Linked DNA regions of Homo sapiens: regions 2, 3, 4 and 5 are each linked to region 1. The links come from fine-mapping of genetic effects on gene expression. A gene starts in region 1. Each other region holds a variant in brackets. All regions are shown on one strand. Distances are between the middles of the regions. Region 1 holds the start of ASAH1 (N-acylsphingosine amidohydrolase 1). Region 2 has its middle 34 kb from the start of MTUS1-DT. Region 3 overlaps ASAH1 (N-acylsphingosine amidohydrolase 1). Region 4 overlaps PCM1 (pericentriolar material 1). Region 5 overlaps ASAH1 (N-acylsphingosine amidohydrolase 1).

Region 1 (6,083 bases):
AACATTTTAAATAAGCGATCTGCTTAATGAACACTGATTGGTATGAAGGGGAAGTGTCATTCTTTACCTCACTCCTGAAACACTTTTCTATCCAAAGGTTGGTTTGAGTCAGTATTGGCGTCATACAACCACTTACTATAAAATAAGTTTACTGGTGGTAATGTGATGGAATTTATTCCGGATATCTGATGTTATAAACTTTAGGGTCCCTGAAATATGCAGGATCCTTGTATGTAACTGGCATAAACCCTGTAAAGAGATAATTAAAGTTCTTGACAAAGCATAATGAGCAAAATTTCAGCTAGCTCAATACAGTTGTTGAGGTGCTCTTTCTTACCCATTGTTTGAGCTCTCTTAATTGCTTTTGTGATTTGTTTCTTCCCACAAAGACCTGTAAAATAAAAAGCTTCCTTATTCATAAAAAAGTCAATATTTAAAGTTAAAAAAATGTTTATTTCTCAAACTGAAACATTATTTCTCTATCTCTTGACCTTTTAGTACACGTTTTTGTATATTCGGTTTTACTAAATCAAGTCAAACCTGTTCCAGGTAATGTGATGTTATACATGATAGGTTTCATTTAGGGTGGGGTGGCTAAGTTGCAACCCTTTTAAATCAAGGCTCCACCTCAGGAACCTAGGAATGTTAGGTAGGAGATGAGGAAGTCCACAGCTTGCCAAGAACTTCAGCTATTCCATAAACAATCTGATTACATATCCCGACTCTTGCACACGAAACAGGTTATCCAAGTCTTAAACTTGATGCTTTTGTGCAGTATGAACCACCCTTTCCGTGGACATAATCATGCATTTGCACATTTAAATACCATTTTCTATGAACAGATCAGTATGCCAAAAACCACTGCAAAGTCTCCTACACACACCTTGCCTTGACTTTCTGTACATTTCTAGTATTAAAGAATGGTGTAGGCAAAATAAAGATATATGTGTAAGAAAAAAAAGACATGCATGAAATGGTTTAATTTTAGGGAACTAGATTTATATTTTATCTGAAAAGAGTATTAATAATATATAATAGACCTTTGAAAGTTAGACGCATAGTTCTGCGAAAGTGGTGCCTAAGAATAGTATGTCAATTGACAAATTTTTTCCATAAAGAATCTGATTTTGCTAGACTACCTAATCACCAATTAACATCCTCCAGTAGGGAAAAAAATATGCTTGGTGACATGTTTAAATCGCTCTCAAGAGTACTGAAGATGAATGATCTTCCAATCAAGTAGCTATTTGATTTAGTAATAACAACTAAAAGATGGGAATCCTCTTCTTCGCACACTCATTTTAAGCTCCAAGGTAATTCCATAGATTCAACATTTAACACGTATATTCAATATTACACATTTTTTTTCCGGAGTGAAATGGCTCTGAATGCCTTACAGAATTTGCCCTGCTCTCCTTAACTAAATACTTTGTCTATTAATACTTCTTTCTTCTTTTCCCCTTGTTCTTTCTGTGCCAGACCCACACACGTCTGCTGTAATTGAACATGCCAGGCACATTCTCCATTTAAAGCCTTTTAACAGCTGCTGTCTCTGCCTAGAATACTCTTACTTGGGCACACACAAAACTAGCTTCCTGGTCTCCCTCAACTGTCTGCTCAAACTTCACCTCCTTAATCATGTCTATCTGTCCCTCTTATTTAAAATTGTAACTCTACCACTTCTGATCTCCACACTTGATGCCCCTGGCCTCCCTTTTCCTCCACTGCATTTGTCACTAACATCCCGTATAATTTTCTTAGGTATTATGTTTATTGCCCATTTCTCACCGAGAACATACGCCTCAGGGTGGAAGAAGTTTGTCTTTTTGTTGTTGTTCACTGCTTATCCCCAGTGTCAGGAGACATGCTTGGCACATTGTAGGTCCGCAGTAAATATTTTTTGAATTAATAAAGAATATTTCTACCATCTGCTAGCTTACTGTTCATGCAGGAGCTCAAATGTGCTTTAAGCATGTGATATGTTTCAAAAGTCAAACTTCATCCTTAGGGAGAACACTGTCATCTTCTCCTCCTTTAAAAAAAAAAAATAGGAAAAAAAGCAAAACAAAACATCACCTTCTCATTTCCCCACCTCCAACAAAAAGAGTGTTGAGTTTTCTAAAGAAATAATACAAATGGATAAAACTGCAATTTGTTGTCCTTTCTCTCACATGCAAAAAGAAAAGAAAAAATACTGCCGAGATTTCGGCAGCGTGCTGAGCTTCATCAAAGCATTAAAACAATGCTGCTTGAGACGTCAGAGGCTCATCCAGGAAGTGCAACCCAGAGGGCAGGATTTCCTGCTGGACTTTGAAATCCAACCCGGTCACCTACCCGCGCGACTGTGTCCACGGATGGCACGAAAGCCAAGCGAGTCCCCCTGCCGAGCTACTCGCGTCCGCCTCCTCCCAAGCTGAGCTCTGCTCCGCCCACCTGAGTCCTTCGCCAGTTAGGAGGAAACACAGCCGCTTAATGAACTGCTGCATCGGGCTGGGAGAGAAAGCTCGCGGGTCCCACCGGGCCTCCTACCCAAGTCTCAGCGCGCTTTTCACCGAGGCCTCAATTCTGGGATTTGGCAGCTTTGCTGTGAAAGCCCAAGTGGGTAACCAACAGCTTGGAGGACCCGAGTGGATTCGATTCTCTCTCACTCCTCGGCCACTCAACTGCTCCTTGTCCCTGACTCCGCGGTGGGGATGAATAACTCAACTCATTTCGGGCCGCTTTTCTCAGAGGGCAAAGATGGGTCAGGGTGGGATGTTACATTAGTGTTGAGACTCTTTGGATCCGTTTCGTGGGTACCGAGGACGCCTGGGTACGCGGGACAGGCTGCACCCGCCTGCTAGAGGCGCCCCATCGAGGCGCCACGGGTGAAGCTCCCGGCCCCACCTACGGGGCGGGGCTCCGGCTCGGTCCGACTATTGCCCGCGGTGGGGGAGGGGGATGGATCACGCCACGCGCCAAAGGCGATCGCGACTCTCCTTCTGCAGGTAGCCTGGAAGGCTCTCTCTCTTTCTCTACGCCACCCTTTTCGTGGCACTGAAAAGCCCCGTCCTCTCCTCCCAGTCCCGCCTCCTCCGAGCGTTCCCCCTACTGCCTGGAATGGTGCGGTCCCAGGTCGCGGGTCACGCGGCGGAGGGGGCGTGGCCTGCCCCCGGCCCAGCCGGCTCTTCTTTGCCTCTGCTGGAGTCCGGGGAGTGGCGTTGGCTGCTAGAGCGATGCCGGGCCGGAGTTGCGTCGCCTTAGTCCTCCTGGCTGCCGCCGTCAGCTGTGCCGTCGCGCAGCACGCGCCGCCGGTGAGTGAGCTTGAGCCGAGGCGCAGAGAGGGGCGTGCAGGTGCGGGCGCGGATGGAGGCGCAGGTGTGGCGGCGCGAGCGGGTACAAGGAACACCTCGTGCTGGGCAGCTTCTTTACGGGGGTCTGTGGTTTCGTGCACAGGGGTGTGGGTGCAGAGCGGGCTGGCGAACCCCGTCCTCGGTAGATTCGGTGCTACCTGCAACTAGAACTCCTTTAAAGGAAATCCTAGTCTCTGCAGGATACCTGGGTGTGATTCGCACATTCTTAGATTTGAGTGAGTGTACTTGAATAACCAGTTCCAGGCCCTTGCATTTTGAAGTGTTTAAATAAAATGTTCCGGTGGACCTGTGTGCATTACTCAATCAAGGACAGACTGCCTGATGGTCAGGTGCTTTCTCCCGAAGAAGTTCAGGAGTTCAGCCCAGGATACTGCAGGGCCGTGGGAAACGCTGAGTGGTCCCAAGCTTGGGCGGTGCGAGCAGCCCAGAGCAGGCCCCAAAGGGCCCCCTGTGGCCTTTTGCACCCAAGTCATGGGATCGCCTGTCCCGTGGCTCTTTCCCACGAGCAAGTCACAGGGCTACGGACTTCCTAACTGCAAGAGACAGTGAGGGACGAGCGTGACTCTTTCATTTTACAGAAGAGGAAGTAGACCTAGAGTGAGAAAATATTTAGCCAGAGGTTACACTGTTGTTTACTGAACATGCGTAACGTCCGAGCCTCTTGACGCCCAGTACTCTTTCATAATTCATTTCTTTATAAAGCAATCAGACTGCGTTTGTCTTTGCCAACAGAATCGGATAAGTAGGAACCTGGCGCATCTGGCCTGAGGCTAGATGGTGATGGTCTTGAATAGTTTAGGTAGGTTATTGAAAGTGGAAGCAAGATGTGCATTGTCTTCTTTTATACCTGTAAGGAGAAATTCTTTAAAATCATGGTGGGATATGATTTAGCCATTAAAATTGATATAATGTTCAGCAGATAAAAGTAGAATCCAGAATAGTATATACAGTTTTTCCTGTAATAGGAAAATACACAGAACATGTATGTGGACACGATTAAAGGCCTTAAAATAAAATTGCTCCATTGTGGGTAGGGAATTAATTTGCTTGACGGTAGTTGGTTTTATGGGAATTGGGAGAGACTTTGATACTTTGATACTGTCAGGGCCCTTCATTGAAAGACCACCAGGAACACACCATAAGCTGAACAAATTGGGTTTAGTGTTCTTTGAGGCAAAGGAGACCACACACCATGAGCGACGGACGGTAGGTTATAGAAAAAAACCCATTACAGAATTTGAACTTCGGTTGCATGATTTGGGGTAAGACTGAGGAACCGGGCTTTGCTGTAGATAGAATGCTGTTAGAAGGTGGGGCAATTCTGACTGAGTAAAGAAGGAACAGCCATTCTGTTTAGCACGAGAAGGGGATGTTTGGTGTTTTGTGCGTTGCAGGTGCCCTTGTTTTTGTCTGTTCTTAGAGAAAATCTTCAAGTGGCATTGCTTTGTCTTGGTGTGTCATGTCTCAGAATAATCTTATCCGACGTAGGTATCTGTGGGATTGTTGATGTCCAGGAGGAAAACAGAGCTTACCTGGCTGTGAGTGTCAGATCGGCTTGTAATAATATTGAGAGATAGCTGTGGGACTCAGAGCAGTTTCAGGTGTTGGAGGCTGTTTTTTCTTCTTTCTCAATAGCTTTATTTATTCTAGCAAAAGTATTTTGATAGCTATTTTCAGAAGAAGAATTAACAACCTCTCAATGGATATAATAGTTCTTATCTAGAACAGCGATTATCAAAGTCTAGTCTGGCCACTGGTGTCACTTTGGGAAGCTGTTTTCACAGGTTTTCAATGAAACTGGAAAAATAAGAATGCAAAACTAAAATTATTAATTTAGAATGTTAATCTTTACTCTGATTGTATGGACTTCAAGTTTTCATTGTTGCAAACGTGTTCTTAAAAATAACGGCAGAGGTAGATGTTATGTGCATGGAATTTGTTTTGTTTTAACATCTCCATTTGGCAGAATAAAAATTTGGACCCTCCTGTGCCAAGGCCTCATTAATTTTTTTTTACTGGCCTGGAAAATCCTGGGATCCATGCACTGAAGGACCTTTAGAACCTTACAGAAGTTTAGTGACTTCATTCTCTGAGAAGAATAAGCAGTTTTTCAACTGGAGTCATTATATGATAAACTATAGCCTCATGGTAACAAAAGATATTTCAAAAGTACTTTCAATAAATATGAATAATGAGAAGCAGCTTTAAATTGGAAACAAGTCATTTGATTTAGAACATCTGTAAGGATTTTTTGTGTGTTTGTTTTTGAGGCTTTTCACAATATTCCTATGTGAAGGTCCTCCTGAGTTATTCTTCATTATTGAATTTTTTAGGAGTCTATTAAGAGATGATGGTGAAGACAGTGGCACAAGAAATGTCTGGAGAGATAGCGCCAGATGACATCATCCAGGGTTCTGTAGACTCTTATTAAGGATTCAGAAATTTATCCTAAAAAATGGGAGGATCTGGAACCAGCCAATGGGAGGCCATTAGATGGTTTTAGACAAGATAACATTTTCACTTTAAAAAGATGAGTCTGGATTGGAGGTCAGCAAGGGTAGATATGAGGAGACTAGTCCAGAAAAGAAAACAGGGTGCGTTGAAGGATGGTGGCGCCAGGGGTGAGGGAGAGAAGTAGATGTTCTAGAAAAAAATCAGGAGGGCGAATGAGCTGAAGGAATCGTTGGGTGAGGATGAGGGAGTGAGGTGTCAGCGTGACCTGCACATTGC
Region 2 (6,083 bases), 250 kb after region 1:
GGTGAAACCCTGTCTCTACAAAAATATAGAAATTAGCTGGGCGTGGTGGCAGGCGCCTATAATCCCAGCTACTCGGGAGGTTGAGACATGAGAATCGCTTGAACCCGGGAGGAAGAGGTTGCAGTGAGCCAGCATCGCACCACTGCCCTTCAGCCTGGGTGACAGAGCAAGACTCTGTCTCAAAAACGAAAAAAAAAAAACCTAAGAAATTTCTCCCTTTCACTCCTATGTCCTAGTGGCAAACCAAGATGATAGGTTAGTTTTGTATATTTCCAGGGTTATTTTATTAACATAGTAACAAGTAGATGTATTCTTTCTTTTCTACACAAATTATAGCACAATATGCAGTGTTCAAATGCAGCCATCTTTAAGAGCACTCAAAGGTATATGGTTTCAACACTGGTGGGCTTTTCCACATTTTGCAAAAGAGATGTGCTTTCTGGAAACTTCTTAAAATAAAGATTTGTTTTGCACTTACGTTCTTCCATTAAACAAATGCTAATACTGTATACTAACAATGTATTTTCTTTTTAGTTGACTTTCAAAAATCTCATTTAAACAATTGAATATATAGAGTTATCACCAACACCAGGTACTATTTCCTCTATATTATTTTCCAAAAACTCATTCTTCTACCAATGCCACACTTTCATCTTAGAGAGCTGGTTGAGCTTTTGGATTAAAATTTAAGCCATGTGTTGTTCATCCAATAATGCTAGAATTTATTCCAAATTACGCTGAAGGCCATTTGCTTTTTGCCTCCAAGCATCAAGAGTTATATTGAAACTCCTTTCAAATTTACTTCTATTCTGTTTGCCCACATCTGGCATAATGCCAGTTCATTTTTAACTCAAAAAAACAACCATGTTCTCTTCTTTCCTCTTTTAGCAATATTACCATCCTGACACTTGATCCCTGCAAGCAATTATCTGATTTCTTCACGTGTCCCTTTAATATTCTTTAAAGGAGTCAAAGCATTTAAAATAGCCCTTTTGTCTGTGCCAAATGTTCCCAGCTGTCTCAAAATATGAACCAAATTATGTACCAAGGGATTTATCTTTTGAAAATGACATCTACAGTAGTGATTCTAAATTTCCTAACTTAGAATTCAAGGCCCACAATATCCTGCTTTTTCAGAGCTATCTCACTTGATTGAGCTTTCCACCCCATAAAGATTGTCATTTTTAGTTTCCTGTATCTTTGTGGTATATTTCTTTTTCTGTGTCTTCATGAAGGCCGTTCTGCTATGCTCGTCTATCAACTTGTTTCCTACTCCATCTCAAGGTTTTGCCATGTGATCGAAACCCTCCGAGAATAAGATGCTTTCTAATTTGTATGTAGGTACATTTCATCTTATTGACCTCTATAGCCATCCTGTGATATAAAAGCATAAGCATGGTTACCCATGTTTCAGGTGAGGAAATTGAGGCCTAGAGGGCTCAGTCATCCTGGATTCTTCTGCATTAACAAGCTGCTCTACTCACTTGGCAGTCTGTACTGCCTCACAATATTACCTTTGTACATATGCATGACTTGTCATCATAACTGCATCTCCAAGGCAGTTCATCTCATTGTTCCTTGTATTCTCCCCTGTGACTTGAACATAAAAGGAATTCAGTAAATATTAGCTGTTCGACTTGTTAGAAGCCAAGAGTCATAAAACTTTTGGCTCAAAGAGAGCCTTTGTGATTATTTAATGAATCCTTGAGTTTGTCAAACTGGTTTGAAGTCTGTATAGCACTGGAGGTAATAGGTACAATGCCATTCCTTTTGTTAGAAGACATGAGATAAAATTATTTTAATTTTAAATAAATACTGACATATAATGGTATGGAATATTAACATTAAAGTTGTAAAATGAATCATAAAACAAGTTTTTTAGACAAAACATGAAACTTCAAAGAAACTCCAGAGAAATATCAGAACTGTAATTAGCTGTTTCAGGCTATCCCAGGCTTCTGGAGGTGGGAGGAGGGGGTAAATATTGAAGTCTGGAGAGGTTAAGCAAATTGCCCTAAATCACACATTAATTCAATCAATATTGATTCAGCCCCCACTACTAATTGTGTAAACACCAAGGTTGCAATGACAAGCAAAACAAGACATTGACCACATAAAGTTTGTATGTAAGTGGAGGTGAGAGGAGGACAGCGTTGTTAAATTAATATTCAATATGCATAAACTATATAAAGCAGCCCCTCTCTTGGTCAGTCCAGCAGAAAAAAACTTTATTGCAACTCTTCAGAAAATACCCAAGAGAGTCCATCTTATTGCAAAACAGAAAAGCTTTAACATCTTTTCCTGTGTCTTACATTCTCAGTGTTTCTCTTTCCAGTTACTCACTGATAAAAATGAATTTTCCTAAGTTCTTCCTGACCGTTGGCCCGAGAAGTTCTTAGCTCTTTGACCTCTTACTCCTATCTTTTCCTCTTCTTCCATCTGTTCTATCCTCAATGCAAATGAAGCTACCTCCTGGCGAGAGTTTTCTTTAGTGATTGTGGTGGTGGAAAAAAATATGAAATCTTATGAATTGGTTTTTTGTTCCTGTTATATTTTTTAGTGACACAGTACAGTAGATGTAAAAATGCAGAGAATTTGACTTAGGCTGGGGTTAGGGAAGAATCCTTTGATGAAATAATCTTTTAAGGGAGGCTTGGACAGTTAAATGAGAACCATATTAACAAAGAAAATGACGTAAGAAGATTTCAGGCATAGGGATCTTAGTCAAGGAGACTCCAAGGTAGGAAGACACAGGGAAATGACAAAAGGCCATTATGGCTAGAATACAAGGCAAGAAGCTGCCACGAAGAACCTGGAGAGGGAGAAAGGAGTCCAACGATCCAAAGCCTCGTGGACCACATTTAGGATTTGATCTCCTTCTCTGAGAGCGTTGAGAAGCCATCG[A/G]AATGAAGCAGGGCCGGGCGCAGTGGCTCTTGACTGTAATCCCAGCATTTTGGGAGGCAAAGGCAGGCGGATCACTTGAGGTCAGGAGTTCGAGACCAGCCTACCCAACATGGCAAACCCCATCTCTACTAGAAATGCAAAAAGTAGCTGGGCATGGTGGCACACGCCTGTAGTCCCAGCTACTTGGGAGGCCCAAGAATCGCTTGAACCTGGGAGAGAGAGATTGCGGTGAGCCGAGATCATGCCACTGCACTCTAGCCTGGGTGATAGAGTGAGACTCTGTCTCAAAAAAAGGAAAGCAGGGCAGTGACATGACCAGATTTGCATTCTGATGCAAAGGATTGGTGGGGACTAGAAATTTGGGGAGAACAATTGATAGGTTTCTGTTGAATTGAGATCATGTCAGGGGAGATGGAAAGCAGAAAACTTCCGAAGTTCTTTGGGAAGAACTGGTCAGGACTTAGTGATAGATTGGATATGGATGTGAAAGACAGAGAGGTCAAGGACAACTTCTAAAACCTCTGGCTTCAGTAACTGCATGGATGATGGTGACACACATGAAGAGAGGAAAGTTAGAAGAGCACCAGAGTTTGCAGGGTAATTTTGAAAGTCAGATGGCTTAAAAATGAGACAGAAAGGAAAAAAACAAAGGCAATAGTGATTTTGCCCCAGCAAGTCATGAAGCTTCCATTTTTTCTTGAAATTCTTGCTTGAATGATTTATTTATTTATTTATTTATTTATTTATTTATTTATTTATTTGCGACAGAGTCTCACTCTGTTGCCCAGGCTGGAGTGCAGTAGCACGATCTCGGCTCACTGCAAGCTCTGCCTCCCGGGTTCACGCCATTCTGCCTCAGCCTCCCGAGTAGCTGGGACTACAGGTGCCCGCCACCACGCCCAGCTAATTTTTTGTATTTTTAGTAGAGACAGGGTTTCACCATGTTGGTCAGGCTGGTCTCGAACTCCTGACCTCATGATCTGCCCGCCTCGGCCTCCCAAAGTGCTGGGATTACAGGCGTGAGCCACCGTGACCGGCTTGAATGATTTTTTATATCCATTTATCTCCTCAATAACAATCTAAAAGGCACATAGAAAGCACTTTGAATTTAATTTGTTATTTTTTCATTGACATTGAAAGAATGACATATACATGGTATCATTTAGTTTAATAAAATAGGTAGGAAGTGAGCTCATTCTCAATTTTATATATTATATTATGAAATGTAAGTTTCGTGTATGTTCATAAAATGAGTAGGTAAGAGATATTCAGGGTATCTGTCACCATATAACAAATCACTCCAAAACGTAGCAGCTTAGGAAAAACTATATTATTGTATTACTATTTCTCATGATTTTGGGGTTCAACTGAAATAATGGAGTTATTCTCTAAAGCTTCCATAGTCACATATCTGGCTGGTGAGTTGATGCTACTGAACTTTTGCCTGGGACACCCACGTGATGGAACACAGTCACCTCTCCATGTGGCCTCAGTCTCCTCACAGTGTGGGAGTTGGGTTCCAAGACTGATCGTCCTAAGAGAGCCAGGCAGAATCTGTGTTAACTTGTAGGACCTAACCTTAGAAGTCGCATGGCTAAACTGCTATATCACAGGCCTGTCTGGATTCGAAGAAAGGGAATATAGTCCCCATCTCTCAAAGTGAAGAGTGACAACTTGCATGATAAGATGAGCAGGTAGAACGGGAGGTGTTGTTATAACCATCTTGGCAAAAACAATCTGCCATAACAGAGAAGAGCAAATGGAAGTACACTCTTCTTTGCTGGACAGTATCTATAATAGCACTTGGGACCAAGTAAGTATTTGTTCAATGAATGACTAAGCAACTAGAATAGGATACACTATCTTCCAACTCTGATTCTTGTTTATTACTTTTCATAGTTACTCTTTGGCTAGAATCTTAAGTATAAAGAGAACTAAACTAACGGAAAAAACTTCAGATTGAATAGTCTTATGAAGTTCAGATTTATTATTAATATATTATATATTTATTTATAAATGATATATAAATAGTATATTCAGTGGCTCATGCCTGTAATCCCAGCACTTTGGGAGGCTGATGCGGGAGGATCGCTTGAGCCCAGGAGTTCAAGACCAACCTGTGCAATATAGCGAGACTGCATCTGCAGGAAAAATAAAAAAAAATTAGCTGGTCATGGTGGCATGCACCTGTCGTCCCAGTTTCTCAGGAGGCTGAGGTAGGAGAATTGTTCAAGCCCAAAAGGTAGAGGCTGCAGTGAGTAGTGATTGAACCACTGCACTCTAGCCTGGGAGACAGAGCAAGACCCTGTCTCAAAAAAAAAAAGTATGTCTAATTACTTATTAAGTATAAGTTTAGTCTTCATATTTTTAAATATTCTAATTCATCTGAAATAAAGTATTGTAAATTCACCTTAAGAGTAAAATAATAAAAATATAAATTATTATAATGACAAATATTTCATTTCAGTGGTCTGGTGGACAGAGACTAAATAGTTAGAATAATCAATGTGGTGGGCTTAATAATGGCCTCTTAAAATGTCCATGTTCTAATGCCCAGAACCCATGAGTGTGCCCTTATACGGCAAAGGAATGTCACAGGTGTGACGAAGTTAAAGACTTGGGGATGAGAAGATTATACTGAATTAGCCCCATGGGTCCTAAATATAATCACAGGTTTTCTTCAAAGAAAGAAACAGAGGGACAAATTGGACTCTGTTAGAGCAGAAGGCAAAGCCAAAGACATATTGGAGAGAGGGAATGGGAAAGGGAAAGAAAGAATTCTCTCCTGGAACCTCTCGATGGAACCAGTCCTGCTAATAGCTTGATTCCAGCCCTTTAAGACTCATGTTAGCCTCTGACCTCCAGCATGGTGACAGAATAAATTTGCGTTGTTTTAAGACACTAAATCTGTGGTATTTTGTTACAACAGCCATAGAAAACCAATACAGCCAACAAAATGATAAAATGGGGAAAAAAATTTGCATTTGAAATAATTCAAAGCCACATGTTCTTCAGCTGGCATAAATAGGAAATAGATACAGTTAATTTAAAATGCTGAATAAAGATTATAGGTATTAAAATGAGTGTATATGATTGCAAAACCCTATGCAATCTATGTTAACATTTTTCCTTTTGAGGCTGGTAGTGTAGTAAACAACCTTCCTCCTTCCGTTCCTTCT
Region 3 (6,083 bases), 21 kb after region 1:
TTTAAAAATTAGATTGAAGGAATTTTTTACATACTTTGAATATAAGCCCTTTGTCAGATATATGGATTCTGAATATCTGCTCCCAGTCTATGACCTTCATTTTTATTCTCTTACTTTTGTCTTTTGATGAACAGAAATTTTTAATTTTAGTGAAGTCTAATATCTCAGTCTTCTCTTTTATGAGTAGTGCCTTTTGTATCCATTTAAGGAATCTTGGCCTACCCCAAAGTCATATATATATGCTTATATATTTTCTTCTAGATGTTTAATGTTTACTTTTTACATTTAGGCCTATCATCTATTTTGAATTATTTTTGTATATGCTATGACTTATGGGTCAAGCTTCAGGTTTTTCTCATGTGGTATATCCAGTTAGTTAAACAGCATCAATTCAAAAGGCTATCCTTTCCTCAGCAAATTGCAGTGGTGTCTTTGATATAAATATACAATACATATATATATACACACACACACACACACACACACACACAATGTGTATCTGTATATACAATCAGGTGATTGTATATATGTTGTTTTGTTTGGGGAATTAAGTTTCATTTACATATTTGTCTTTTTGTCTTCCCTTATATCAATACTATTTCACCTCAGTTACTAAAGCTTTATAGTAAGTCTTCAAATTAGGTGGTATAATTCTTCCAACTTTGTTTTTCTCAATATTTATTTAAGTTACTGATTTCTCTGAGCAGTATCTTTTATTTTCAGGGAGAAGACCTCACATGCCATTCGTTAAAATTATTCTTAGATATTGATGGTTTGGGAAGCTATTTTTAAAATTTCAATTTAAGCTTTATGGCATGTAACGAAAAATATTTTCCCCACGACCCCAAAAGTTTTATCTTTAAGCTAGCAAAGCAGTAGTGTCATTATTTTAAATAGCCAACAGTACCTTCATTTTATGAGATGATTGAGAATTTGTGAAAATCAGTAGTATTTATCAACAAAAGTGGCTAGTTTTGTGTGCTGCTTCTTTAAAAAACTCATTTAAAAGATAGCATACTGGAAATATGTACTTGCTGCCTTTATGGAAAGCAAGTCTAATTCCTTTATTATGTAAAGAACTCTAGCAACTCAATACCAAATAGAAATACCTTATGGATTAAGAAGAATAACATGATGTATAAGTGGTGTAAATTTATATAATTATTATAAATTATTATAAATGTATAATAAAATAACTAGAATTTCACCAAATTAGAAATTTAATGGAAATAAAATACACATTGGATTTGGGTGAAAAAAACATGTTGAGCTTAACATGTTAATGTTAAATGGGACAGAAATACAATGTGCTGCCTACTTTTGAATTAAATGCTAAATAGCAGTATTATACATTTTGGGAAAATATTCAAAAAATAAAATACCCTAGAATGGAGTTTCTTGGCAGCTCTGTACTAATTTTAATAGTTCTTGAATCTCCTTTTTCACCTTAGAAATTTTAGTCACACTTTAAAAATCTGGGCAAAATATATGTCCAGCAAACAGCCAAGAGCCAGATGTATTAAATGATCATATTTACGCTCCCAAAAGAAAATTCAAAATGAAGCATGTTGATAAACATTTTGGATGTGATGTTGGAGAACAATTGCAACCTGCCCAGATGTTCAGCTCGCCCGAAGGCTGCCTCCTTGGTGACTTGTTTCATCTTGAGTCTAGAGAGTCCAGGCTGGGGAAGAAAACCACCTCCAGCCGGCCGTTCCAGCACAGCCCCACTGGCCAAAGCACACACTCACACAATGAAAACACTGAAACTTTTTCTTAAAACAAATTTTTCTCCCATTGTCATGGTTCTGTATATTAACACAAAATTTTCTTTTCTCATAGGAGAGATTATTTCATTCAATATTTTTTATGAATTATTTACCATTTGTACTTCAATAGTAGCAGAAGACAAAAAAGGTAATTGTGCGCTGAGGGAGGGTGGGCAGCATGAAGCACTACATAAAGAAAAATCTTCTAAATGAAATTAGAACTTCTGAAATTTGGGCTTGCTATGTAAATTCTGTGTATGTTGCATACAGCTTTTTATTTCTTGGTAAAATTTTGTGATTGTACTGAAAATTTTCCTTATTTTCAGACTACTGTACTGCCTATTAAAGTTGATTTCAGACATGCAAAAAACCTGGAAGAAATGTTGCAGGGCTAGAAACATTCTTCTCTTCCTCATAGTTTACTTCTACCCATCTACATGCTTTGATGGAAGTGCTCGCAGGAGGTGCTTCCTTATCTTCGTGTATGTCATGACATCTGTCCTTTTCTTGAGGCCCAGAACACACATTCTCCCATCCTTTCCCAGCCAGGCAACCCAATGGATACCAGCCTCACTTTCCCGTATTTTTCCTGACTGGTTCCCAGAGTACAAAGCACAGGACAACTTCGCTAACTCACCCTGATCTTTGACCTATACTCTGGGTATAAATCTGCCTGTACCTTACCCTTGAGATGTCCTGCTCTAGGGGATGATGCCTGAAGGGAAACATTTGATGAATCACAGTAATTGAGGCTCCGATTTCTGTGTCCTGGTAGAACCATGTGATAGTGAACCAAAACATGACCATTGATTCCTTTTCCCATATTCTGATCTTACCTGGAAACCCGTGCTCTCAGATTTTGTGGGGTTATCTGGCAGATAGACGGTGACAACAGTCCCATCTGGTGAAGGCTTAGGATATTAGGATGTTTCTTACTTCTTATTGTTTGAAGAAACAGTTGTGAATAAAAATTAATCAAAATTAGAGGCCAGGCACAGTGGCTTACACCTGTAATGCCAGCACTTTGCGAGGCCGAGGCGGGCGAATCATCTGAGGTTGGGAGTTTGACACCAGACTGGCCAACATGGTAAAACCCCTTCTCTACTAAAAGAAAAATACAAAAAAAAAAAAAAA[G/AAG]TAGCCAGGTGCGGTCGCACATGTCTGTAATCCCAACTACGTGGAAGGCTGAGGCACAAGAATTGCTTGAACCTGGGAGGCAGAGGTCGCAGTGAGCTGAGATCGCACCACTGCACTCCAGTCTGGCCAACAGAACGAGACTCTGTCTCAAAAATAAATTAATTAATCAAAATTAATTGTCCAGCTTTGATTTAGAATCTTAACTGCTATTACACGTCTCTTCTGTCTACCTTCAAATAGGTCATCTAATACATGGGAGAAACATGGATTTTGGAGTATTTCTTGGGTAAGTAAAGAACAAAGGGTCAGGCATGGTGGTTCACGCCTGTAATCCCAGCTTTTTGGGAGGCTGACACGGGTGGATCACGAGGTCAGGAGTTCAAGACCAGCCTGGCCAAGATGGTGAAACCCCGTCTCTACTAAAAACATAAAAATTAGCCAGGCATGGTGGTGGGCATCTGTAATCCCGGCTACTTGGGAGCCTGAGGCAGAGACTTTTTTGAACCTGCGAGGCGGAGGTTGCAGTGAGCCGAGATCGCGCCACTGCACTGCAGCTTGGGATACAGAGCCAGACTCCATCTCAAAAAAAAAAAAAAAAAAAAGAACACAGAACTGTTTTGGTCTGTAGGAAGAGTAGGTTGTGTTATATTGATGATAAGTAAGTCCCAAGTCACACCCAAAATGTGATCATAAGTGAAGATAAATGGATTGCTTGAGTGCTGAGACAAGAGGGACATGCTCTTCTATTTTATGTGTCCATCTTGACCTTTCTGAAAAAATAAGAATATTGTAATTAGCATTCTATGTTTGAATCTGAGGCTCACTATTTATAAGCTGTGTGATATTGAGAGAGTTACCTGACTTCTCTGAACCTCAATTTTATCATTTGGAAAACAGAATAAATATACCATATTGTAAAGGTCTTGTTAGGATTGATCGTGGTGACTCGGTAAATAAAGCTCCTAGTGTAATGCCTGGCCCTCATCATCATGTTGATCATTACTATCACTGTGTTTCTGAAATGTCACTGAAACATGTCTTTTATAGGTGGAACATAAATAATGATACCTGGGTCATAACTGAGCAACTAAAACCTTTAACAGTGAATTTGGATTTCCAAAGAAACAACAAAACTGTCTTCAAGGCTTCAAGCTTTGCTGGCTATGTGGGCATGTTAACAGGATTCAAACCAGTAAGGAGTCTGTTGTTACATAATTATACAGGTAGCCTTCTGTCCTGTTACCGTTATGTAAAAGTTGAAATCTAAGAATATGAGGACCTAAAGGGAATATGAAGCCCCATTTCACCCCCTTGTACTTCTTGTCACTTCATAGGTATGAGATCTCGTGGTAGAGAAGAGTAGAAAGGAAACGGAGGTTTCTGAGCCTCTTCTGGGATAAAGAGCATGTGGCTGGGTGTCAAGGGCTGGGAGTCACAATCTGATTTCTAGTCCTGGGTCTTCCGCTCACTTAGGCAAGTCAGGCGTTCATTCTCTGCCCTTCAGTTTCCTGTCCAAAAAGCGTTGCCAGTGATACCCCACCTACTTATCTCACATACTAGAATCAAAAATGCTTTGAACTTTTTAAAAAGCCTTTTATGGTTTTGATTTATTTTTGCCTTCCCCATTACCCAAGCTAGGCCTTTATATCCCACTCTGAAGTACAGTGAGCGACAGGGCCTTAAAGCGCATGGTTGATGTTTCTGACTTCGTTGCTTTGTCTTTTTCTCAGGGACTGTTCAGTCTTACACTGAATGAACGTTTCAGTATAAATGGTGGTTATCTGGGTAAGTAGAGCATTCTCAAGTGAAATGGGAATCTCAGAGCTTTTTTATGAGGAAGGCTGGACTGTGCCTTCTGGTTACAAAGTCCAACCTCTTCCGGTTCCCGACTGGTTACAAAGTCTAACCTCTTCTGGTTCCTGACTGGTTATATAGTCCAGCCTCTTCCGGGTCCTGACTGGTTACATAGTGTCACCTCTTCCGGTTCCTGACATTGTGTTCATCTCTTCCAGGTATTCTAGAATGGATTCTGGGAAAGAAAGATGTCATGTGGATAGGGTTCCTCACTAGAACAGTTCTGGAAAATAGCACAAGGTAAAGTGTTTCGTTGCTTTACTATTAAATATTTATTTTAAATTACTCATATTAAAAAATAAAAATATTTGTCAAGCTCCAGCTTAATCCTTTGAGGAACTATTGCAGAATTTCTTAGGTGAACCTCTGACACTCATGTGGAATTACTCATGTTTTCTTCGTGCAGACTGTGTGTTTTATAGCAAATAAATGAATTACTTAAAAAGCACTAGGGATACTGACATTATGAAAGGCACCTATGAATATTTTTGGTGTACAGAAAAAAAATGACCCACACACAAAAGAACAGTCATACAGTAAAATCTTCATTTAAATGGTAGTACAGACCAGGCACAGTGGCTTATGCCTGTAATCCTCACGCTTTGGGTGGCTGAGATAGACAGATGACTTGCACCCAGGGGTTTGAGACCAGTCTGAGCAACATGGCGAAACCCCGTCTCTATAAAAAATACAAAAATTAGCCAGGCATGGTGACACGTGCCTGCCTGTAGTCCCAGCTACTCAGGAGGCTGAGGTGGGAGGATCACCTGAGCCCAAGGAGGTCGAGACTGCAGTGAGCTGGGATCAGTCCACTGCACTTCACCCTGAGTGATAGAGTGAGACTCTGTCTTAAAAAAACAAAATAAATAAATACAAAATGTACTACATATTAACCTGTAAGTTATATCTTGCCTTGGTATAGAAATCTTACAATAGCAAAACTGCCTTTCCTTCATTCAGCCAGCACTGCGTCCAAATAAATGGGCATCAATCCTATTTTTAATACTTCCCAGGGAATAAGATTTAATGTTAGTAGTGTTCTTTGATAACCCACTTCAATTTTTAATAGTCCTAATTTTCAAGAAGGTTTACTTTCTGTTCTCTAAGTCCTACATACTGTAATATTATTTCCCTTTGTTCTGTTGTTGAGTGAAAGGCATGGACAGTAAGGGTGGAAGATGATCTCTTGAGGCCACTTTGTTTCTCCTTCAGATTAGAGGGGCTTCCTAAGATTCCCGCTTCCCATCTCAGTGTTCACCATACAGGGTCAGGGATTGCTTTTCCCAGAGGCATTGCTCACCATCCTTTTTTAGAAAACACATTGTG
Region 4 (6,083 bases), 150 kb after region 1:
ACATCAATTAAGATTTTAAAAAGACAAGAAAATTGAATGGTTTTTAAAAACAGAGAACTTACTAAATTTAGAACACAAAGAAATAAAAAATAAAAAGTTCAACAGATTTTATTCACATAAAAGTAAATTCCTAAGTGTGCTGAGAATAGTAAATGAGAGCTTGGGAGAAAAAAAAATCTCAAAGAAATACTAAGTATAGTTAATACCTTTGTTATACAGAGAATTTGTTTTAAAAAAATAAAACCGGAGAAATATAAGCAAAACAAGTAGTTTGCAAAAAAAAATACGAATATATAAAGTCCAGCTGCAAATTAAAATAAGAAACTATTAAATTTGCTAACTTTCATATAAATTACATATTATCTAATCCTAATGACAGTAAAAGGAAAATGGAATTCTCAGACACTACATTGAGAATATAAACCAGTATAACATTTCTGGAAAGCATTTTGGCAATACTGTATCAAGAACTAAAACTGAATTTTTGACGCAGTAATTCTACCTCTCTATATGCAATCTAAGAAAACAACCTTAAATATGGTGGAAAGAACTATAATGAAGTTGTTTATTACGCTATAATTGTGATAAATTAAAAAACAACACTAAATGTCAAATGACAAAATCAATGCTATTAGGCAAACTGTACTACACTTGCTGGGTAGAATACTAAGTACCCTTCAAAATATGTAATTATGAAGCCTGGACAATATAACCTGTCGGTGTATCATGGAAAAAGTAATATAAAAAAGTAAAAAAGCAGTATGAAAAATTATACATAAATTTTTTTAAACAAAAGCTAAGAAACTTTATTAAAGTGCTTTCACAAAAGCAATTATTGGTTACAGGGTAGGCACTGGTGATTTTTCTTCTTTTTTTCTGTCTCATATTTTCAGGAACAGTTTACGTAATTATTTATACTAGAAATATATTTTAAAACTTTAAAAAATAATACCCATAGAAGTATATCCAGTGAACCAAAATGACTCATTTAAATAAAACATTTTGCAACTACTGTATTCTACATATACTGACATAATTTGTAATACTGAAGAATAAAACAGCCAGGCAACAGAAGTGATGCCATATTTAAAAGTACTAAAAGCAATTGTTTTGAAACGTAAATTGGAAGGGAAAATTAAGATATTTAAGTCAAAATTATTACATATCATTTTTATCTTAAAAGAGTATGTTAGCAATACTTTCTATTAATAGAATAATGAAGTAATAGTAAAGTAAGATAAATGTATTAAGAATATATCTGGGCCAAGGTCGGCGTTACCACAAGGTCAGGAATTCAATACCAGCCTGGCCAACATAACGAAATCCTATCTCTACTAAAAATACAAAAACTAGCCAGCCATGGTGGCACACGCCTGTAGTCCTAGTTACTCAGGAGGCTGAAGCAGAAGAATCAATTGAACCCGGGAGGCAGAGGTTGCAGTGTGCTGAGATCACGCCACTGCACTCCAGCCTGGGCAAGAGCAAGACTCCATCTCAAAAAAAAAAAAGAATATATCTGGAGAAAGAATGTTTTACGCATTCTATTTCCCTATCACAATAAATTCCCCCTAAAATGCAGAGCTTGTTCCAAAGACCTATTTCTGGCTAACGACTTTGAACACTACTAAAATAAGTTTCTAAAACAATTTTAAAACTGTACACTCTAATTAGTTTGGGAAAAACAGATGATTTTTTTAGTATTTTTTAAAACAAAATTTACTAAAGTCTAATCTATCAGGTTGGCAAAATGAACAATTTCATCCACTGTTACACTGTGATTGCCATAGGGGGTAGAATACTTTGTAACTTAATGATGACACCAAATGTGTTTAAAAGGCACAGCATTAGTATGCCTTTAAAAAGTAAAACTATTAGTATGAAGCTAAAGAAATAATTGCATATGGATGAATTCTTTTTTTTTTTTGGAGACAGAGTCTTGCTCTGTCACCCAGGCTGGAGTGCAGTGGCGCCATCTGGGCTCACTACAAGCTCCGCCTCCCAGGTTCACGTCATTCTCCTGCCTCAGCCTCCCCAATAGCTGGGACTACAGGCACCCGCCACCACGCCTGGCTAATTTTTGTTGTATCTTTAGTAGAGACAGGGTTTCACCATGTTAGCCAGGATGGTCTCCATCTCCTGACCTCGTGATCCGCCCGCCTCGGCCTCCCAAAGTGCTGGGATTACAGGCGTGAGCCACCGCACCCGGCCACATTCACAACATTTCCCAAAAATACTAAGTATCTCCCTCATAAGAGTAATGGCATGTTATTTCTCTTCATGTCAACCTCTTTAACCACCTAAATGTCACCATTACAAATACAGAATCTCTGCCTTCTAAATTTTATTCTGTAAACACATTAATATAAACTAGTACTTACAAGTACAGAAAGTATTCCAGTAACGGTCAGGCGCAGTGGCTCACGCCTGTAATCCCAGCATTTTGGGAGGCCAAGGCAGGCGGATCACGAGGTCAGGAGATCGAGACCATCCTGGCTAACACGGTGAAACCCTGTCACCTCTACTAAAAATACAAAAAATTAGCCAGGCGTGGTGGCGGGCACCTGTAGTCCCAGCTACTCGGGAGGCTGAGGCAGAATGGTGTGAACCCAGGAGGCGGAGCTTGTAGTGAACCCAGATAACACCACTGCACTCCGGCCTGGGCGGAAGAGCGAGACTCTGTCTCAAAAAAAAAAAAAAAAAA[AAG/G]GAAGTATTCCAATAACGAAAAGACTAAGGATGTACAGAATACCAATTCAAGCAAAACTGCTGTGCAGGATCAATAGGAGTTGGTGACTATAGTCCCCACCTTATCTGCAGTTTTGTGTTACAGGATTATAGTTCCCCATAGTCAACCATGGTCAGGAAACTGGTGAGTAAAGTACGTTATTTTGAGCGACAGAGACCACATTCTTGTAACTTTTATTACAGTATACTGTTGTGACTATTCTGTCTTATTAGTTATTGTTAATCTCTTACTGAGCCTAATCTATAAATTAAACTTTATCACAGTTACATACATACAGGAAATAACATACACATAGAGTTTGGTACTACCCACAGTTTCAGGCATGCACTGGGGGTCTCTGGAAGGTATCCCACACAGAATAGGGCAGACTACTGTATTACAACACGGGCGATAAAGAAGCAGAAGAGTTAAAGGATAGTAGAGTTAAAAGATAAAGGATAAAGGTTGCTAGAAACTGGGTATGTGACACACAGTTAAACTGATCAGAAAAGAAACAAGTTTTCTTTGTTGAGAGAGGATGATGATGAGTTCAAGTTTTAGAAATGGAGAGTTTGATGTGCCTATAATACACCCAATAAAATTGTCCGGTTGACAAATAGCGATCTATCTCTCAACAGAGAAATCTGGGCTGGAGAGTCATCCACTCAAAAAGTGGGACAGAGGACTCAGGGAGACGATAAAGAGTAAGAGAAGACCAGATCTTAAATACACTGGTATTAAATAGAGAGGCAGAGGAAAAGGACACGCTAATACACTAATAAGGTACAGAAAGACAGGAGGGAAACCAGGAGAGCCTGCCAAAAGGGGAAAAGTGTATCAAGTAGAATGTGATAAGAAACCAAACAGTTACCTTGCCAGATAAGAGAAGTACTGAGAAGTATCCTCCTAGATTTAGCAACAAGGTTACTGTTGACTTTGGTGAGAAATTTCAGCAGGGGTAGTGAGGGTCAATTCCATAACTGGAATGTATTATTGGAAGGAAGAGGGAAAAAATAAAGAAAGTCATTAGCTAATATTTTTAAGGAATCAGCCTATGATGAGAAGCAAGCACAGACGGTCATAAGGAAAGTTTTATTAAAATAGAAGTATCTTGAGTACGTTTACAATTTGTTGGTAAGGAGGGAGATACTGGTCGGGTGCGGTGGCTCACGCCTGTAATACCAGCACTGTGGGAGGCTGAGGTGGGTGAGTCATCTAAGGTCAGGAGTTTGAGACCAGCCTGTTCCAAACTGCGAAACCCTGTTTCCACTAAAAATACAAAAATTAGCCAGGTATGGTGGCACATGCCTGTAATCCCAGCTACAAGAGAGGCTGAGGCAGGAGAATCGTTTGAACCCGGGAGGCAGAGGTTACAGTGAGCGGAGATAGTGCCATTGCACTCAGCCTGGGCAACAAGAGAGAAACTCCGCCTCACTTTAAAAAAAAAAAAAAAAAAAAAAAAAAAAGAGGGAGATACTAAAAATGCAGAAGAGAAAGGAGATAAGCAACTAGCATGTGGGCTCTGAGAAAGCGGGGGCCATTGGGGTCTAGAGCAAAAGACAAATGATTAGCTTTAGAGAGGAAGAAGAACATCTCTTTAATTGAAAAAAACCAAGAAAGGATGGAATGGGTTGGAGGCTGCTTAGCAGATGTGGTGGTAGGAAACCAAAGGTGTTCCTAAGTGTTGTGAAGTAGGAAGGACTGTACATTAAATGTGAGGGTGAGACAGCAGTGTCTGAGAGAGCGTAGAAAAGTAGGGAATGGAGAATGACCGTGGGCAGCACTACGGACTCAGGGAAACGAGAGACTATTCACTCATATAACACATACTACAGATATTTTTTTCCAGCAGTGCTCATATCCCTCAATATAAACACTCCACTGAATCCACCCAAGGTTGAAATTTTGCCATGCAAGTTAAACAGAAAGACAGTAAGATAAGAAAGTTGAAACTGTAGGAAAACAATTGGTAGAAGTGATTGATGACAGTACTACGGGTAGCTGAACGGGGATAAAAATAAAATCCTTCTACTTTAAACACGCACTTCTACTCATGCTATGCCTTACTAAACGAAGTTGAAACTGTTACTTTCAAGTTTCATTTAGCTATTTTTAACAGCCTTAGTGGTTTTTTTTTTTTTTTTACAAAGACACAAAAATGAAAATATACTATGGCAATTTTAAGCTACTTTCAATGACTTTTTTTTTTTTTTTTTTTTAAGAAAATCCTGTTAGGCTGGGCGCGGTGGCTCACGCTTGTAATCCCAGGACTTAGGGAAGCTGAGGCGGGCGGATCACGAGGTCAGGAGTTGAAGACTAGCCTGATCAACATGTTAAAACCCCATCTATATTAAAAATACAAAAATTAGTCGGACGTGGTGGCACGCGTCTGTAATCCCAGCTACTAGGGAGGCTGAGGCAGGAGAATCACTTGAACCTGGGAGGCAGAGGTTGCAGTGAGCCAAGACTGCGCTGCTGCACTCCAGTGGGTGCCAGAGCAAGACTCCATCGCCAAAAAAAAGAACATCCCGTTGCAGGATTCTAACTATAGAGACATATTACAGTAGAATATCACAGTATTAATTACCATGAAAATACCTATGACTACAGTTTACCTTTGAAATAAGAATATAAGGTAAAGAAGAAATTCAAAGTAATCAAATAATCAGGCTGGGTGCAGTGGCTCACACTTGTGATCCCACCACTTTGGGAAGCTGAGGCAGGCGGATCACTTGATTCGCCTGGTCAACATGGCGAAACTCCGCCTCTACTAAAAACGCAAATATTAGCCACGTGTGGTGGGGCGTTCCTGTAATCCCAGCTGTTTGGTAGGCTGAGTAAGGAGAATCAATTGCTTGAACTCGGGAGGAGAGGGATGCAGTAAGCCAAGATAATGCCACTGCACTCCAGCCTGGACAACAGAGCAAGACTCTGTCTCCAAAAAAAAAAAAAAAAAAATCAAAGTGATCAGTAACGAAAAAAATTATTTTTTTCTCAAATGGCATTAAATTACTCATAATCACCTCTGAAAATATCCAAGATATGCCTGTACTTTTCCTGACAGTAACTGGCGCATGGTTTCACTTTCTACTTCATTCCCTGCTTGCATGAACTAAACACTTGCAATGACTTTTCTAGGACTCTGGCCTCAATTCCAATATCCATCTCATCTTCTCTATTCCAATACTGAACTGATAATTTGTTCAGGATCCTGAACTTCTGAAGTTCCTCTTTCTGATCATAAGTTTTTGCATTCTACTTCTCTCACTTGATTCCTGCTGAAACTGCTCTTAGCCTTCCTGAATACTACCAGCCCCTTGATCGTTTCTCTCTCCCTAAATCCATCAATCCCTTGATTCTT
Region 5 (6,083 bases), 28 kb after region 1:
CTGTATTTAACTTACTGAACAAAACTATTTTCTTGTGTTTTAGAATATCTCATTTGAAACCATGTATGATGTCCTGTCAACAAAACCTGTCCTCAACAAGGTATTTTAAATGTTATATGTATATTTGCCTTTTAGGGAAAGAATTTGGCCCTATGTTTTATCTTTCTCTGTTATCTTTGATCAGTTTGAGCACAAAAGGTGTGTTCAGCTTAGGACTGATTTTTTATTAAAAAATGTTTTTGTGTGGCTAAAACTGTATTTTGGAATACAAGAAAGAAATTGATCACTGAGGCTTGATAGGTCAGAATATTGTTTATAGCTTTATTTACATAGCATTTGAATTAAGGCTAGCATTTTACTCTTATTGGTATCTATTAAAAATCTCACACTATATAACTAACACCTAAATGTCAACAAAACAAAGTCTGCAGTCCATTTTCAGACAGAGCTCTGTGTCTTGGTGGGTTCGGGTTTCCCTTAAACTTTACTACATCTGTTTATCTTTTCCCTACACTGTAGTTTTAAAAAAATGCAAAAAGTTTCCTATCATCCCACCACTCGCTAACAATCATTCCCTGAACGTTCTGAATATGCCCCCCTAATTTTCCCATTTGTTCCTTCTTTTCTTGGTCCTTCTCCACAGCTCTCCCTAAAGTAAACATGCCGCCTTTACCCTGCCAGGACAAATCCCTCCGGCCTTTAGCATCCAGGTCACCCTGGCTCTCACAGGAAGCCTGCCTTCAGTTCACGGGCCCTGCCATACTTGCGTTTTGCCTATACCATCTTTGAGCAAGTCACAATCTCGTGACTTGTGTTTGGGTGTGTGCCTTGTGATCTGGGTGCCTGCAGTTTCCCCCACTGTATTGGAAATGCTTTAAGGATAGGGATAGCCAAAGCTCCACGGTTTTTACTCCATAGGACACCGGCAGGTCTCCCAGGACTGCCAGCTGTGCGTCAAGGAGGGTTAAGGCAGTCTTAAAGCATTGGGGGTGGAGCAATGTGCTGTCAGGAATAAGCTCCTATAAGGAGCTGGAGATTCTTTCCTGAGCCTGTTTATATTCATTACCTGAAACAGTGATCCTGTTGAAGTTGTTTGCTTTAGTTATTTGGTGAGACTTTAGCTAATTTTATATGATTATACTATATTAATATAAATATATACATTATATAACATGCTTTGCATATATTAAGTTATATTATTTAATATTAAATAACTTCTAAAGCAAATTCTACAAGTATAGAAATGCTAATATATATCAGAACATCTCTGAATTGAAAACGTCCTTAAAGTAAAAATAACTTTTCTTTCAGCTGACCGTATACACAACCTTGATAGATGTTACCAAAGGTCAATTCGAAACTTACCTGCGGGACTGCCCTGACCCTTGTATAGGTTGGTGAGCACACGTCTGGCCTACAGAATGCGGCCTCTGAGACATGAAGACACCATCTCCATGTGACCGAACACTGCAGCTGTCTGACCTTCCAAAGACTAAGACTCGCGGCAGGTTCTCTTTGAGTCAATAGCTTGTCTTCGTCCATCTGTTGACAAATGACAGATCTTTTTTTTTTCCCCCTATCAGTTGATTTTTCTTATTTACAGATAACTTCTTTAGGGGAAGTAAAACAGTCATCTAGAATTCACTGAGTTTTGTTTCACTTTGACATTTGGGGATCTGGTGGGCAGTCGAACCATGGTGAACTCCACCTCCGTGGAATAAATGGAGATTCAGCGTGGGTGTTGAATCCAGCACGTCTGTGTGAGTAACGGGACAGTAAACACTCCACATTCTTCAGTTTTTCACTTCTACCTACATATTTGTATGTTTTTCTGTATAACAGCCTTTTCCTTCTGGTTCTAACTGCTGTTAAAATTAATATATCATTATCTTTGCTGTTATTGACAGCGATATAATTTTATTACATATGATTAGAGGGATGAGACAGACATTCACCTGTATATTTCTTTTAATGGGCACAAAATGGGCCCTTGCCTCTAAATAGCACTTTTTGGGGTTCAAGAAGTAATCAGTATGCAAAGCAATCTTTTATACAATAATTGAAGTGTTCCCTTTTTCATAATTACTCTACTTCCCAGTAACCCTAAGGAAGTTGCTAACTTAAAAAACTGCATCCCACGTTCTGTTAATTTAGTAAATAAACAAGTCAAAGACTTGTGGAAAATAGGAAGTGAACCCATATTTTAAATTCTCATAAGTAGCATTCATGTAATAAACAGGTTTTTAGTTTGTTCTTCAGATTGATAGGGAGTTTTAAAGAAATTTTAGTAGTTACTAAAATTATGTTACTGTATTTTTCAGAAATCAAACTG[C/T]TTATGAAAAGTACTAATAGAACTTGTTAACCTTTCTAACCTTCACGATTAACTGTGAAATGTACGTCATTTGTGCAAGACCGTTTGTCCACTTCATTTTGTATAATCACAGTTGTGTTCCTGACACTCAATAAACAGTCACTGGAAAGAGTGCCAGTCAGCAGTCATGCACGCTGATTGGGTGTGTACATCTGTGTTGGTTTGGAGGAGGGGGGTTATTATCAAGAAATACAAGCTGAACATCGTATCTGAATTAAATAACAAGGGTTATGTAAGTGGGTTATTAAATATGACTAAACGGTCACAATCTTACTCTTACATGACTGATACCACCTCTTAACCAGATACTATCAACCCAATTTGCAGGTGTTTAAAGGCAGTTTTTCCCCCAGATAGGTGGTGCTTCCACAAAACTTTAGTGATTCCAAGATTACTTTAGTGAAACGAGGAATTATAAGAGGATTTACATTAAAATAGGATTTAATTAATGAAAAAAAAACTTTACTCAGATTTTCTACCTCTTACATAAATGAAGTCAGGTCAACTTGATGTATTTTTTTGTTAATGTAATAACCTTTGATATGCCTGATAGTAAAGAGGTGAGATGCTAATTGTTTCAGACCGATTTCTCCGGAGTAAATCAAAGTTTACAAGAAATAACAGGTATTAAGATTTTAGGAAGTAATTGTTTAGTGGTAAAGCAGTTTTAAAATAGGATATACAGGATGAGCCTGTTTATATAACACTTTATATATGTACTTATGCATAACTAGATACACATCTAGAATATCAAAAGATGACTGGGAGGATATTAACCAAAATGCTGACTGTAGTTCCTACTGGATAATGGCAAGTGCTATTTTAATTTTGAGAGGACAAAACTTAGTAGCCATTGGACATTAATGAGACTCTATTTTTAGAAATACTATAAAAAAATAAGGTCCAGGTTGGATCCAAACCATGGGCTCCATCTAATTTCCCTGCCAAGTTTTCGGGAGTTTGATTGTGAATGGAAGGCTGAATCCTACCTGTATTCCTTCACACATCGAGCTCCTCAGTCACTCATCTTAATTAGAGCTCTTGCTTATCCATTTATGTACCAGGCCTTGTGATTGATAAGGTGCTTGACCTAGATTACCTCCTCAGCAAACCCCGGTATCACTTGTAATCACACTTGCCAGCCATGGAAGTAACTTGCTGAAAGTTGCATTAACAGAAGGGCTTAGAGCCAGGGTTTTAGCCAGGTCTGTCCAACTCCTGCGCTCTTATGACACCCGAATTCTTGACTTTACAAGTAGGATTGAGAAACAGCTCTGTCCTATGAGACCCACACTTCTGCTGCCATGGACCAGGCCACCCTGCTGAGCCTGGACACCACTGTGTCACTGCCTTCTACTTGTTCTGTGTCAATTATTAATGTTCCCATAGGGATCAGAAACCCTTTGGTGTTAGGAGCTGACAGGTCACCTGTTTTTGACTACCCTGAGTCTGAATCGTGCTCAGCTTGTGGGGAATGCGTTAAGAGCTCCTCAGTCTTTCTGTGGCTGTGACCCAGGAGTACGTGAAAAATATGAATAGTTCAGAAATTTATAAAAAGTCACTATAAAACCTCACACAGTCATTATTGAAGTTAGTCTCACAAAGTGAAGCATAGTTTTTGTTTATTGGTGACAATTTACAAAATACTTGCCAGCTTAGCCTCACATATGACAGATGTGACCAGCAGGCTCCAGACCACACCGAGCTGCATGCTGGCCCCGTCTACAAGCCTGGGGAAGTGTGGCTGGGCTCCTCAACCTTCACAACTTGGGGAGGTTGCTCAGCTCACATGAAAATCAGTCCTCTCTTTTTCCCTAGGGCACTCTGTCCCTCTTATGTTGATAAAGTGGGTTTCCCAGCCAGGTGGCACAGGGGATGCTAGACTGGTGTGCGTTGGGCAATTCTCTGTGGCAGTTCTGGACATCTTCAAGGATGCTTGTCTAGGCAGAGGACAGATTTGTTTCCTGACTACGGTAATAAAGATCATCATCTACCTGTAGGGCAAAGGTTGGATGAGTTGATTGGAGAAGCAGCCCATCTTATAACTCGAGGGGTTTCCTGAGCTTGGGGTTCCTCAGCTGTGATACAGATGATACATCATAAATTGGGTTGTCACACATCACCTCCTTGGGGGACTTGGGGTGGGGGGCAAATGGCATTCCCAGAGCAATACAGTCCTTTGCCTTTGGCCCAGGAGTCTGCCAGCATCCAGGAAGCTGTGGCAGGCTAGGTCATTAGCTTGCAAGCAGGGTAAAATCTCAGGCCCTTCACAGGGCCGCAGCTTTGGGGCAGCTGGGCAGGGTCTAGGCATACCAGCCTCCAGGCTGCCTCCCACAGCCCGGGCTTCCTCTGGGGCTCCTTGAAGGGCAGACTGGGACAGTGATACGGTTTGGGCCTGTGTCCTCACCCAAATCTCATCTCGATTTGTCAAGGGAGGGACCAGGTGGAGTTGATTGGAGCATGGGGGTGGTTTCCCCCATGCTGTTCTCGTGATAGCTAGTGAGCTCTCACGAGAGCTGATGGTTTTAAAGTGTGGTGCTTCCTGGTTCTCCGACTTGCTTCTCTCCTGCCTTGTGAAGGCGTCGTCTCCCGCCCTCTTGCCTTCTGCCACGATTGTCAGTTTCCTGAGGCCTCCCCAGCCATGCGGAACTGTGAGTCGATTAAACCTCTTTACTTTATAACTTAGCAGTGCGAAAACGGACTAATACAGACAGAGTGGGATAGACTGCATCCCTCTGTGTTCTCACAGGCTGGGAAGGGAGGTGTGGGGCATGCAAGGTATGGAGAAAGTTAGTAAAAATCACTGGCCCTGTGGACCAGAAGAGACCTGGGCCAACTAGGTTTTGCCTCTGTCAAATACAAAATCCTCATAAGGAAACTTAACCATTCAGCCCTCACTGGGGGCCCCCCCAATTGTTTTTCACCAAGACCCAAACTTGGCTTGGTCGTCCCGGTCGTCAGTGGCAGCAATAACACCTGGAACTTGTTGCTCCCATTGCAAGGTTGAGCAATAGCAGCTGGCCTGCAGATCTCACAGACAAGCGGCCTGTGGCACAACTGGAGTTTATGTTCCAGGTGCGCAGAATGCCGCACACAGCCCTGCTGCAGAGGTGGGAGGGAGGCGCATAGGCACTGCGGTCTCCTGGTGGATTCAGCTCCAGGCAGCATCCCAAACATTCACTTCACATGTATCTGATTACTGTGTCCATTTGTAGCTGACAGGCCAATTTGGAGGCATCTCAGCTGGCTGCCTATGACTGTTGTTAACAATTCAAGTGCTTTCTGCAAAATAGGGCATTGTTATTTTAAAATACTTCATTGGAATTTTTTGTTTTGTTTTGTTTTGTTTTGTTTTTTTGAGACAGAGTCATGCTCTGTTGCCCAGGCTGGAGTGGTCCAGTGGCGCCATCTCGCCTCACGGCAGCCTCCACCTCCCAGGTGCAAGCAATTCTCCTGCTTCATCCTCCAGAGTAGCTGGGATTACAGGTACCCACCACCACGCCCAGCTAAATTTTGTATTTTTAGTAGAGACGGAGTTTCACCGTGTTGGCCAGGCTGATCTCGAACTCCTGACTTCAAGTGAGCCGCCCGCCTTAGCCTCCCAAAGTGCTGGGGTTACAGGCGTGAGCCACCATGCTTGGCCGATATGGCAATTTTGATTGAATTCAAAACTCTTCCCAAGATAATTTAGTAGTACATGTATCAATGAAAG

What was found. PIP is the estimated chance that this variant, and not a neighbour inherited with it, causes the effect. A credible set is the group of variants that fine-mapping cannot tell apart.
Region 2: its variant is the best candidate, but not a certain one, in a credible set for the expression of ASAH1 in whole blood (INTERVAL, PIP 0.59).
Region 3: its variant is the best candidate, but not a certain one, in a credible set for the expression of ASAH1 in whole blood (INTERVAL, PIP 0.54).
Region 4: its variant is the best candidate, but not a certain one, in a credible set for the expression of ASAH1 in fetal neocortex (Walker 2019, PIP 0.81).
Region 5: its variant is the best candidate, but not a certain one, in a credible set for the expression of ASAH1 in blood mononuclear cells (TOPMed, PIP 0.66).

The regions. Positions count from the first base shown.
Region 1 is chr8:18,081,191-18,087,273 of GRCh38, reverse strand. It overlaps ASAH1 (N-acylsphingosine amidohydrolase 1), which reads left to right and starts at 3,167. Exons shown (of 14, transcript NM_177924.5): 1 at 3,167-3,293. The coding sequence starts at 3,216. It overlaps ASAH1-AS1 (ASAH1 antisense RNA 1), which reads right to left and starts at 2,406. Exons shown (of 5, transcript NR_125429.1): 1 at 2,335-2,406; 2 at 1,789-2,032; 3 at 338-391; 4 at 137-249. It also overlaps the pseudogene MRPS18CP3. RefSeq lists enhancers at 2,185-2,720, 2,521-2,800, 3,601-3,710 and a silencer at 3,051-3,250.
Region 2 is chr8:17,832,287-17,838,369 of GRCh38, reverse strand. No RefSeq gene overlaps it. Among named protein-coding and RNA genes, the nearest start is that of MTUS1-DT, 34 kb to the right of the region's middle. The variant A/G (reference allele first, on the strand shown) is at 2,905.
Region 3 is chr8:18,060,291-18,066,373 of GRCh38, reverse strand. It overlaps ASAH1 (N-acylsphingosine amidohydrolase 1), which reads left to right. Exons shown (of 14, transcript NM_177924.5): 6 at 1,843-1,917; 7 at 3,144-3,189; 8 at 3,951-4,095; 9 at 4,634-4,688; 10 at 4,916-4,997. Among named protein-coding and RNA genes, the nearest start is that of ASAH1, 21 kb to the left of the region's middle. The variant G/AAG (reference allele first, on the strand shown) is at 2,904.
Region 4 is chr8:17,926,722-17,932,804 of GRCh38, reverse strand. The region is part of intron 2 of PCM1 (pericentriolar material 1); the gene reads right to left. Among named protein-coding and RNA genes, the nearest start is that of PCM1, 6.8 kb to the right of the region's middle. RefSeq lists an enhancer at 6,013-6,072. The variant AAG/G (reference allele first, on the strand shown) is at 2,702.
Region 5 is chr8:18,052,852-18,058,934 of GRCh38, reverse strand. It overlaps ASAH1 (N-acylsphingosine amidohydrolase 1), which reads left to right. Exons shown (of 14, transcript NM_177924.5): 13 at 44-100; 14 at 1,312-2,943. The coding sequence ends at 1,401. Among named protein-coding and RNA genes, the nearest start is that of ASAH1, 28 kb to the left of the region's middle. RefSeq lists an enhancer at 4,746-5,319. The variant C/T (reference allele first, on the strand shown) is at 2,333.